Linked DNA regions of Homo sapiens: region 1 is linked to region 2. The links come from fine-mapping of genetic effects on gene expression. A gene starts in region 2. The other region holds a variant in brackets. All regions are shown on one strand. Distances are between the middles of the regions. Region 1 overlaps SAAL1 (serum amyloid A like 1). Region 2 holds the start of TPH1 (tryptophan hydroxylase 1).

What was found. PIP is the estimated chance that this variant, and not a neighbour inherited with it, causes the effect. A credible set is the group of variants that fine-mapping cannot tell apart.
Region 1: its variant is the best candidate, but not a certain one, in a credible set for the expression of TPH1 in cerebellar hemisphere (GTEx, PIP 0.88).

What each region holds. Positions count from the first base shown.
Region 1 is chr11:18,075,877-18,081,263 of GRCh38, reverse strand. SAAL1 (serum amyloid A like 1) reads left to right here. Exons shown (of 12, transcript NM_138421.3): 12 at 773-972. The coding sequence ends at 865. Among named protein-coding and RNA genes, the nearest start is that of SAAL1, 28 kb to the left of the region's middle. The variant G/C (reference allele first, on the strand shown) is at 3,414.
Region 2 is chr11:18,043,781-18,049,167 of GRCh38, reverse strand. It overlaps TPH1 (tryptophan hydroxylase 1), which reads left to right and starts at 2,899. Exons shown (of 11, transcript NM_004179.3): 1 at 2,899-2,927.

The sequences.
Region 1 (5,387 bases), 32 kb before region 2:
GGAAACAGAAAACCAAATACCGTATGTTCTCACTTGGAAGTAGGAGCTAAACCATTGGATACTATGGACATACAAATGGGAGCAGTAGACACTGGGGACCACAGGAGGAGGGGAGGGAGAGAGGGAGGGCAAGGGCTGAAAAACTACCTATTGGGTACTAAGCTCACTGCCTGGGTAACAGGTTCATCTGTGCCTCAAACCTCGGCATCATGTAATATACCTTTATAACAAACCTGCACATTTAGACTCCCCTGAGTCTACAATAAAAGTTGAGGGAAAAAAAGATGACTACTGGAAAATTCATAATAGTATTGGGAGTAACAATTCTAAGAGGAAAAAAATAAGCTCTGAATTTATAGTACTCCTTTCTGTTATGAAGTAGATAACATCTATATTAAGCCAAAATCAGATTCTTGGGAATAGTCAGTAGGTTTTTATGGTTCTTCAAATGACATCACATTTCCTACCATTAGAATCAGATTTCAAAATAGGAACTTTTTCAGGAAAATGAAGGACAGAATGTGGGAACAGACTGTAAAGAAGAGGCGGGGGGAGAAGTACTAGCTCAAGAGTAAAACGGAATGGGAAAGCATAGTCATTTCCTTGAGAATGATTTAGAAGACTGCTTAGGAAGTACTGTTACTATCATCTGGAGATCTGCCAGCATTTCTTTTCCATTGGACCATTTAGAAACCACAGGTAGAGCAATCAGTACCTTAAAGCACGTTTTTCTCTTCTGTGTTTGATTTTTGTTTGTTTGTTTGACTCACAGGTGGAAGATTTTATTAAAATCCTACGTGAAGTTGATAAGGCGCTTGCTGATGACTTGGAAAAAAACTTCCCAAGTTTGAAGGTTCAGACTTAAAACCTGAATTGGAATTACTTCTGTACAAGAAATAAACTTTATTTTTCTCACTGACAGTTGAAATTGACTTATTGGAAATATTAACTAAAGCCCATATTAGACCATAATTGTCTGGTGTTAACATTTTTCTGTCCTAGACTTGTCTCACTTTTTTTGACTTTGGAATCTGAGGTTTCACCACTGTCACCCCTCTTTTTATGTGATATTTATCATCCTCAGTTGAGGAAAGCAAAAATGTAAGCTTATCATTGAGGTTCTTTTTAGGATATGTGCGAGATCAGTGTTGATTTTCTTCATAGCTGTTAATTTTGTTTGTTTGTTTGTTTGTTTTGAGACAGAGTCTCACTCTGTCGCCCAGGCTGAAGTGCAGTGGTGCGATCTCAGCTCACTGCAAGCTCCGCCTCCTGGGTTTATGCCATTCTCCTGCCTCAGCCTCCCGAGTAACTGGGACCACAGGTGCCCGCCACCACGCCTGGCTAATTTTTTGTATTTTTAGTAGAGACAGGGTTTCACTGTGTTAGCCAGGATGGTCTCGATCTGACCTCGTGATCTGCCCGCCTTGGCCTCCCAAAGTGCTGGGATTACAGGCGTGAGCCACCGTGCCCAGCCTAATTTGATTTTTTTAAGTGAGAATTACGTCTTTGTATCCACTGTTAAGTATATTCAGCTGCAGTAACAGAAACCCTCCTGTAGCAGCTGAATCTGATCTCTTTCAGGAACCTTATGCAAAAATCCAGATGTAATGAGGTGGCTCCTTTCACCCTTCACGTGGTCTGCCAGGTAGGCCTTTGCGTTCATGTTTATTGCCTTGTGGTTAAGGGGGCTGTGCCATCTCTGGGCCTTTATCCACATTCAGGAAGAAAAAGGGAGAAAGAGAAGGGGCTTTTTCCTACCAAGTCTTTATGTGTGTTTGGCTGGGTTGGGGGGGTGCTTTTTAATAGATTTTTAAGAAAATATCTGTTAGGAATAACAAAGCCAGCTTTCTGAACCTCACTTTTGGTATAGCCCCTTCCCAATTTATATCAGTTTTTTGGCTTTAAAGCATTGGTCTTGCCTCATACTTTGTTTTCTTTCCTTGAGAGATTTTTGGTGATAAAACCAGATTTTTGGTGATAAAAACAGTAATCTTATTGGTAAGAGATAATATGATTTCCAGTTTAGAGGTAGGTTTATGGTTGGAAGTGTCACTGCTGAAAAGAACTGGAACATAAAAGTAAAATCTTACAGGTGAAATCTCATTGGTAGGTTTATATATACTACACTGTATGTATATTCGCATGTCCTCAGTGCTGACCTTATTGGTAGACTGAATTGACTATATTCAGTATGAGATTTCAAAGGCACTGATGAAATCACTCCTACCTGCTAGCTGACACGAAAATTCCACTCTTGGTTTTTTTTTTGTTTAAGTTTAAGCTTAAGATGCAAACACTGATTAAGAATAATACTTGAGGTTATTAGTTATGTTTACCTCAGTGCATATGAATTTCACTTTTTTTCTGAGAGCATGTTTTTTGTTGTTTTTTTGTTTGTTTGTTTTTAATTTTTTTTCTTTTTTTTTGAGACGGAGTCTTGCTCTATCGCCCAGGCTGGAGTGCAGTGGCGGGATCTCGGCTCACTGCAAGCTCCGCCTCCCGGGTTCACGCCATTCTCCTGGCTCAGCCTCTCGAGTAGCTGGGACTACAGGCACCAGCCACCACGCCCAGCTAATTTTTTAAATATTTTTAGTAGAGACGGGGTTTCACCGTGTTAGCCAGGATGGTCTCGACCTGACTTCATGATCCGCCCGCCTCGGCCTCCCAAAGTGCTGGGATTACAGGCGTGAGCCACCACGCCCAGCCTTCTGAGAGCGTGTTTTAAAACGGGAAGCACAAGGACCTTATGTACCTGAAGGAGTGTTCCACAAAAATGGCAAATTACAGAGGGAGGAGGAGAAAGGATAGTAGTGGGAAGGCAAGGAGTGTCCAATTTATTTTCTGCTCACATTTCTGTCTTGGACCTACACTGTTTACTTTGTTACTTCTTTATTGTTAGCATTATGAGTTTTGGTACATATTTTCATAGTACTTTGGTATGTTTGAAAACATCCTATATCTATAAATTATGATACTTTTAAGTGACCAGTGTTAAAGCATTTTTAATGCTGCATGTTCTGAAGAATTCACTCACAAGATTTAGTGCTTGAATCAGTTGCAGTGATATTTTGAAATGGTGCTTTCTCCAGAACCATAAATATGAAATTTTATATACAGATGAAATTATATACACAAATGAAATGGAAACTCATTTTTTTCCCTATACTGTTTGGCAGGGAAGAGGAAAAATGCAAAATGAGCTTGAGTTAGCATTTGTTATATTGAGTTTGATATTTTAAGTACCTAAACCACTAAGAAAGAAGGCATGGTTTCCTTCCACTGTTTTTGTTTTTGTTTTGTTTTGTTTTGTTTTGTTTTTAAGATATTTTATCCCCTACAGCAAATGGGATATAGCTAAACTGTTGTTTTCTTGGTGGGTTCAGCTTTCCAGATCAAGAGTTTCCCCACTCTAT[G/C]TTTAGTATTTTCTGTTGCCTTGCTTTGAATTAGTTACTGAATAATTTTGGTATGTAAGTGGGAAAAAGTTTAAGAGCCACCTCTCAGCCTGATATACTTTTTTTTTTGGTGAAGCACATGTAGAAACCGACTATAAGCATTAAAAAACAACCTCTATTAGGGGTTCAGAAAATCTTAAGTGTATGAAATATTGAACACCATTATCTGTTCTTCAGGACTGGGCAATGATGCTGTGTCTGAGCTAGCTGTGAAGCTGATAATCTGTAACTCTAGTATTCTATTTCTTCAACTAATATTCTTTTTTAATTAATATTCTTTATGACCTAATCAATAGCCTTTTTAAAAAAGAAGAAATAGGTCCATATTAATTTAGGACTGAATTATTTATTCTACTTGAGCATGTGTTCTCTTTTACCACTTTGGAACTTCAGTTTCCTCCATGCTCCTGTCAGAAGTTTTAAGAAAGGGAAAATAGGCAAATGCCCCTCTTAACCATACCATATTTTTCTTTCCTATTTTTTTTTTTTTTTTTTTGGAGATACGGATCTCACTATATTCTTGCTAAGACTGGTTTCAAACTCCTGAGCTGAAGCAATCCTCCTGCCTCAGCATCCTGAATAGAATATGTTTTCTTTTTGTTGCTGGTTTGAGATCCAAGAACCATTATTAAAAGTTATATATTTATAGTGAAATAGTATGATGTCTTGGATTTGCTTCAAATTAGTCTGGGGCAGAGGGAAAGAAGTAAGTTAATGGAGTAGATGAAACAAGACTGGCTGCGAATTGGAGTTGCTGAAGCTGGGTGACAATTACATGGGGTTCCATTATACTTTTTTTTTTTTTTTTTTCAGAGACAAGGTCTTGCTCTGTTGCCCAGGCCAGAGTGTAGTGGCACACTCATAGGTTACTGCAGCCTCAAACTCCTGGGCTAAAGCCATCCTTCTATCTCAGTCTCCCAAATAGCTGGGACTATGGGTGCATGCCACCATGCCCAGCTAATTTTTATTTATTTATTCATTTTTATTTTATTTTGAGACAGAGTCTCACTCTGTTGCCCAGGCTGGATTGCAGTGGTGTGATCCTGGCTCACTGCAACCTCCGCCTCCCAGGTTCAAGCGATTCTCCTGCTTCAGCCTCCTGAGTAGCTGGGATTACAGGCACGCACCACCACACCTGGCTAATTTTGTGGGTTTTCTTTCTTTCTTTCTTTCTTTCTTTTTTTTTTTTTTTTTTGAGACGGAGTCTTGCTCTGTCACCTAGGCTGGAGTGCAGTGGCGCAATCGCGGCTCACTGCAACCTTCACCTCCCGGGTTCAAGCGATTCTCCTGCCTCAGCTTCCTGAGTAGCTGGGATTACAAGCGCATGCCACCATGCCCGGCTGATTTCTGTATTTTTAGTAGAAACGTGGTTTCACCATGTTGGTCAAACTTGTCTCAAACTCCTGACCTTGTGATCCGCCCACCTCTGCCTCCCAAAGTGCTAGGATTACAGGCGTGAGCCACCATGCCTAGCCTAGCTAATTTTTATATTTTTAGTAGACAGGGTTTTACCATATTGGCCAGGCTGGTCTGAAACTCCTGACCTCAGGTGATCCGCCTGTCTTGGCCTCTCAGTGGGCTGGGATTACAGGCGTGAGCCACCACACCTGGCCTATTTATTGATTTTGTAGAGATGGGTTCTCACTGTTTCCCAGGCTTGTCTTGAACTCCTGGCTGCAAACAATCCTGCCTCAGCCTCCCAAAGTGCTGGGCTTGCAGGTCACCACACCTGGCCTTCCTGTTAAAGGTTTATAAAAGCAAATAAATGATACACAACTTAAGCTTTAATTTGATTATGAATGATGCTTATTCCTTTTATGTCATTGGGCTAGTCAAACTTACAAGAGCCTGGGCCAATGTAGTCTTGAGTCTTGTGGGCCAGTCCAGCAACCAAAAAAAAAACCACAGGTGAGACTGGAAGCAGGAGGGAACCTT
Region 2 (5,387 bases):
TCCTTTGGGTATATACCCAGCAGTGGGAGTGCTGGATCATATGGTAGCTCTATTTTCAGTTTTTTGAGGCACGTCCAAACTGTTCTTCATAGTGGTCGTACTAATTTATTATACATTCCCACCAACAGTGTACAAGGGTTCCCTTTTCTCCACATCCTCTCTAGTATTTGTTATTGCCTGACCAGGGTGAGATGACATGTTATTGTAGTTTTGATTTGCATTTATCTGATGACCAAGGATGTTGAGCACCTTTTCATATGTCTATTTGCCATTTGTATGTCTTCTTTGGAGAAATGTCTATTCAAATCTTTTGACCATTTTTAATTGGATTATTAAATTTTTTCCTATAGAGCTGTTTGAACTCCTTATATATTCTGGTTATTAATCCCTTGTCAGATGGGTACTTTGCAAATATTTTCTCCCATTCTGTGAGTTGTCTCTTCTCTTTGTCAATTGTTTCCTTTGCTGTACAGAAGTTTTTTAACTTGATGTGATCCCATGCAATCATTTTTCCTTTGGTTGCCTGTGCTTGTGGGGTATCACTCAAGACATTTTTGAGTAGACTGATGTCCTGGAGTGTTTCCCCAATGTTTTCTTGCAGTGGTTTCATAGTATGAGGTCTTAGATTTGAGTCTTTAATCCATTTTGATTTGATTTTTATATATGGTGAGAGATAGGGGTCTAGTTTCATTCTTCTGATGGATATCCAGTTTTCCCAGCAGCATTTATTGGAGAGACTGTCCTTTCCCCATTGTATGTTCTTGGCAACTTTGTCAATAATGAGTTCACTGTAGGTGTGTGGATCCGTTTCTGGGTTCTCTATTTTGTTCCATTGGTCTATGTGTCTGTTTTTATGCCAGAACCATGCTGTTTTGGTTACTGTAGCTCTGCAGTATAATTTGAAGTCAGGTAATGTGATTCCTCCAGTTTTGTGCTTTTTGCTCAGGATAGCTTTGGCTGTTCTGGGTCTTTTGTGATTCCATATAAATTTTAGGGTTGTTTTTTCTATTTCTGTAAGGAAAGTCTTTGGTATTTTGATAGGGATTGCCTTGAATCTGTAGATTGCTTTGGGTAGCATGGACATTTGAACAATAAGGATTCTTCCGATCCATGAACTTGGAATAGCCTTCTGTTCTTTTGGTGTCCTCTTTAATTTCTTTCATGAGTATTTTATAGTTTTCATTGTAGAGATCTTTCACTCCTTTGGTTAATTCCTAGGTACTTATTTTATTTGTGGCTATTGTAAATGGGATTAATTTCTTTTTCATACTGTTCACCATTGGCATACAGAAACGCTATTGATTTTTGTATGTTGATTTTGTATCCTGCAACATTAGTGAATTATTTAATCAGTTCAAATAGTTTTTTGGTGGAGTCTTTAGGTTTTTCCAAATATAGGATCATATCATCTGCAAACAAGGATAATTTGACTTCTTCCTTTCCAGTTTGGATGCCCTTTATTTCTTCTCTTGTCTGATTGCTCTAGCTAGAACTTCCAGTACTATGTTGAATAATAGTGGTGAAATTGGGCATCCTTATCGTGTTCCAGATCTACAAGGAAAGGCTTTCAGTTTAGGAAAGACATCTTTGACCTCAGCTTGGTTCTGAAAGGTCTCTCCCTGACCAGTATTTTTTATGGCATTGAAGTAAGAGCACTGGATTTAAACTCAGACACTTTTGCTTGATTATTGATGGTACTTACTAGCCTGTGCCAGAATAACGTCTTAGAGCCACCCCTGTGCTTCAATTTCCGTATCTGTAAAATACAAATAATATGTACCTCATAGAAGCATTATACAGATAAAAGAAAAATGCATAGAAAAGCTGTAAAGATCCTGAGCTTTAAAGTACATCCATACTCAGCAAAAAAGAAAACAGGAAAGAAAAGGAACAAATCACTAATACCTGCATGAAACTCAAAAGCATTATGTTAAGTGCCAGGAGCCAAAAATCTGTACATATTTCATGATTTCATTTCTGTGACATTCCAGAGAAGGCAAAACTGTGGAGACAGAAATCAGATCAGTGGCTGCCAGGGGCTGGGTGTGAGGTGAGAGACTTTAGACAAGGGAAATTTCTCGCAGTGATAGAAATGTTCTATATTTTGATCGTTTGGTGGTTACACAACTATACATGTTTGTCAAAACTCAGAATTGTACACCTCACAGGGTGAATATTACTGTATGTTAATTATACATCAATAAATCTTACTTTTCAAACATTGGAGGAAAGAATGTCCTATAATATACTTCGTTATGTGTACAGTCCTTTGGGATAAGGAGCTAATCGACTGACTACTCAACCAGTAAATACCTATTCCAAATTTTTTGCCTCTATGTCCTGTTGTTCACAATAGCACGTAATATGATTTTTTGCTAATATAGAATGCTTCTCTGCTTGCAGCTTAAAATTTTTTTTTAATTAGAAGGGCACTGAACACTTCTCTTCTAAAAAGTTCAACTAACTGTTGCTCTGCCTCAAGGAATGGGGGAAAGCACCAAGAGAATAATAAGTCAGGACTGGGCTATTAAATAGCCCAGAAGCACAGAGAGGTGTGGGAGGTGGGGGGATTCTTGCTTTGGTCTCCAACAGGCGAGAAGCACTGCAGTCCTATAGCAGGTCATTGTGTCGATAATAGGCGTTATCTTGGTTTGGAGAGAATGTCCAACTCTGGATTGTTCAGTGTTAGTCAGACTTGTGTGGTTAAGGACGGCCTAACATTCACTTAATTAAAACACCAGTCAGATACACGCAGAGATTGAGGCGTGCAAGTCTCTGGGAGCAGGCGGACGCGACTGCCCACGCCCCACACCCGCCGGCCCTCCCTTCTCATTGGCCGCTGCCCAGCTGCTCCGACGCCCGCTTCTATAAGAGACAGGCAGCGCGGGGCCGCCGGCCGACCCAGCCTGCACCTACTGGCGCCCGAGGTGAGTGAGGCGGCCCTTCCCGCGGGCACCGGGGACCGCCGTCGAGGCTTTGGCGGCGCTTGGCAGGCGCGGGGCTGGGCAGAGTCACCCTCCCGGGAGGTAAATTGGTGGTCTTGCGGAGTCAGATTTGGGAGGTCGGAGTTGTACCCCTATAAACGCTTACTATTCTTTCCTCCCACGCTGTTTGGGGAGAAAAGACACTTTCTGAGTGCCTCCTGTGTGCCAGGAACAGACTCTTTAGCCATCATGAGATTTCACCTTCATGACAAACTCTGGTAGATATTTCTTGAGTCCCCAGATGAGGAAAGTGGGGTCCAGAGTCCAACCCAAGTCTGTGTGACTCCTCTATGTTGGCAGAAACAGTAAGATTTTTCTTCCTTCCCTTCCTCTCCATCAAAGGGCAATGTCTCTTTTTTTCTTCTCCTCCCATGAAGGGAAGCTTCCCTTAAACAGCCTCCCGAAGAAGAAGGAGTCTCAGATGCAAAGCTTCTCAGCATCGCACTTACCATCATCACCACCATCCCAACAGACGACTGAGAGCTTTTTGCAAGGTCGCAATTGACAAAGAGGACTAGGTCCTTGCGGTTTAGAGTCAGTTAAGAGTCCGTGTGAACTCAACCTTGCCTTTGGCGTTTGATTTTCAGAGGTTTAAAATGAACTTCTCATTGATGTCCCACTCTACTTGACTTAGCAGGAAAAAGACTAGAGTTGAACTTGCTAACCCAGGAAAAGTTTGTGCCTGTTAGTTAAAAAAAAAAGGGGGGGGTGGAATTCTAATATCAATGTTTCTGTAAAGTTATAATCTGTGGTTTACATATGTTATCACTGAGGTCCATTTGTACATGTATTATTAGATTATCTCCAGATAGGGATGTGTCTTCTATTTCCATTTTCTCTGCCAGTGCCTTTATTTCCTAGAATACTGTTTTTCATGGATAGTGTTTTCTTTTGTATTTCATCTACACTTTCATCCTCATTCCCACTCCTTATTTAGAAAAGAAAATCAAGACTCCGTAGAGGATTCCCTCCCTCTGAAAGAATCCTCCTTGCAGTTTTTAGTTCTGTCTTCAAACAATATCCATGCTTTCAAAAGACTAATTCAGTAGTGCTTTGTGCTTCCTAGATCCGGTAAATATAAATTACACTTGTTTTACTGATTAAACTAAGGGAAGAAAAGAGTTGGTCATTGTATACGCCTTGACCTCTCCCAAGGGTCGGGTCTGTTGATCTTCTGAGTGTCTTCTTGGTATTTTTTCCTTATTTCCAGTGGTATGTCCTACACAGTGCATCCTTAGGCCAGGAGACGCAGTAGGAAAATGACTCTACCTTTCATGAGAAAAGGGTACCAGTTGGTATTAGCTGATCAGAGAGTTGCTTTAAAAATAAAATGCTTATGTATTGATGAGACACTGATTCAAACAAGTGTGACCTATTTTATCTTACCAGGTTAGTATTGTGTTTTTTTGTTTTGTTTTGTTTTGTTTTGTTTTCCTGAAAGAGTAGGAGGAGGTGGGTAGGTTGAAAGGGGAAAGGAAAAAGTAACAAGGCAAAATATTGAGGTTCTGAAAGCGGTTTGGGGTTAACTGGAGGAAAAAATAACTGATGCCTCATAAGCTCTGTCAACCAAGCAAAGTTATGGCCAAGTTTTAGTAACGATCAAAGATCTATGTCCTGTAAGATTATTTTGGGGTGGGGGGGAACAAAAAAGAGGGTGAGAATTTTCTTCTAGTTTTCTAGTTTCTTAGCAAAAGTTCCTTTTGAGAACCTTCATTTTTACCATGACTTAAACAAGGAGGAGTGTTTCCACATCTTTTTTTTTGAGACGCAGTCTTGCTCTGTCACCTGGGCTGGAGTGCAGTGGCGTGATCCTGGCTCACTGCAACCTCCGCCTCCCAGGTTCAAGCCATTCTCCTACCTCAGCCTCCCAAGTAGCTGGGACTACAGGCGCCCGCCACCACACCCAGCCAATTTTTGTATTTTTAGTAGAGACGGGGTTTCACCATGTTGGCCAGGATGGTCTCGCTCTCTTGACCTCATGATTCGCCCGCCTCGGCCTCCTAAAGTGCTGGGAATTACAGGTGTGAGCCACTTACATCTTAATATAATAATGTATGTCTTTAAATACATCAAAATAATATAAATGCCTTGCATATCATAAATTTCAATTAATGTATCCTTCACCCTCCTCTCCCCACACCAACTAAGGAGATGTTGGCACAAAACTTGATCCATTCCAGAATCAGGTAAAGAAAATAATTATGAACCCTAAAGGGATGGAGCCATGACTGTTAGCACCTTCTCACAATAGCAACTTCCAGGAAAGCTTAGGGACCAGTTTTGAAAATTGAAGGAAATTCTCTTTTTTTTTTTTTTAAGAGACAGGGTTTCACTCTGTCACCCAGGCTGGACTGCAGTGGCGCGATCATGGATCACTGCAGCCTAGAACTCCTGAGCTCAAGC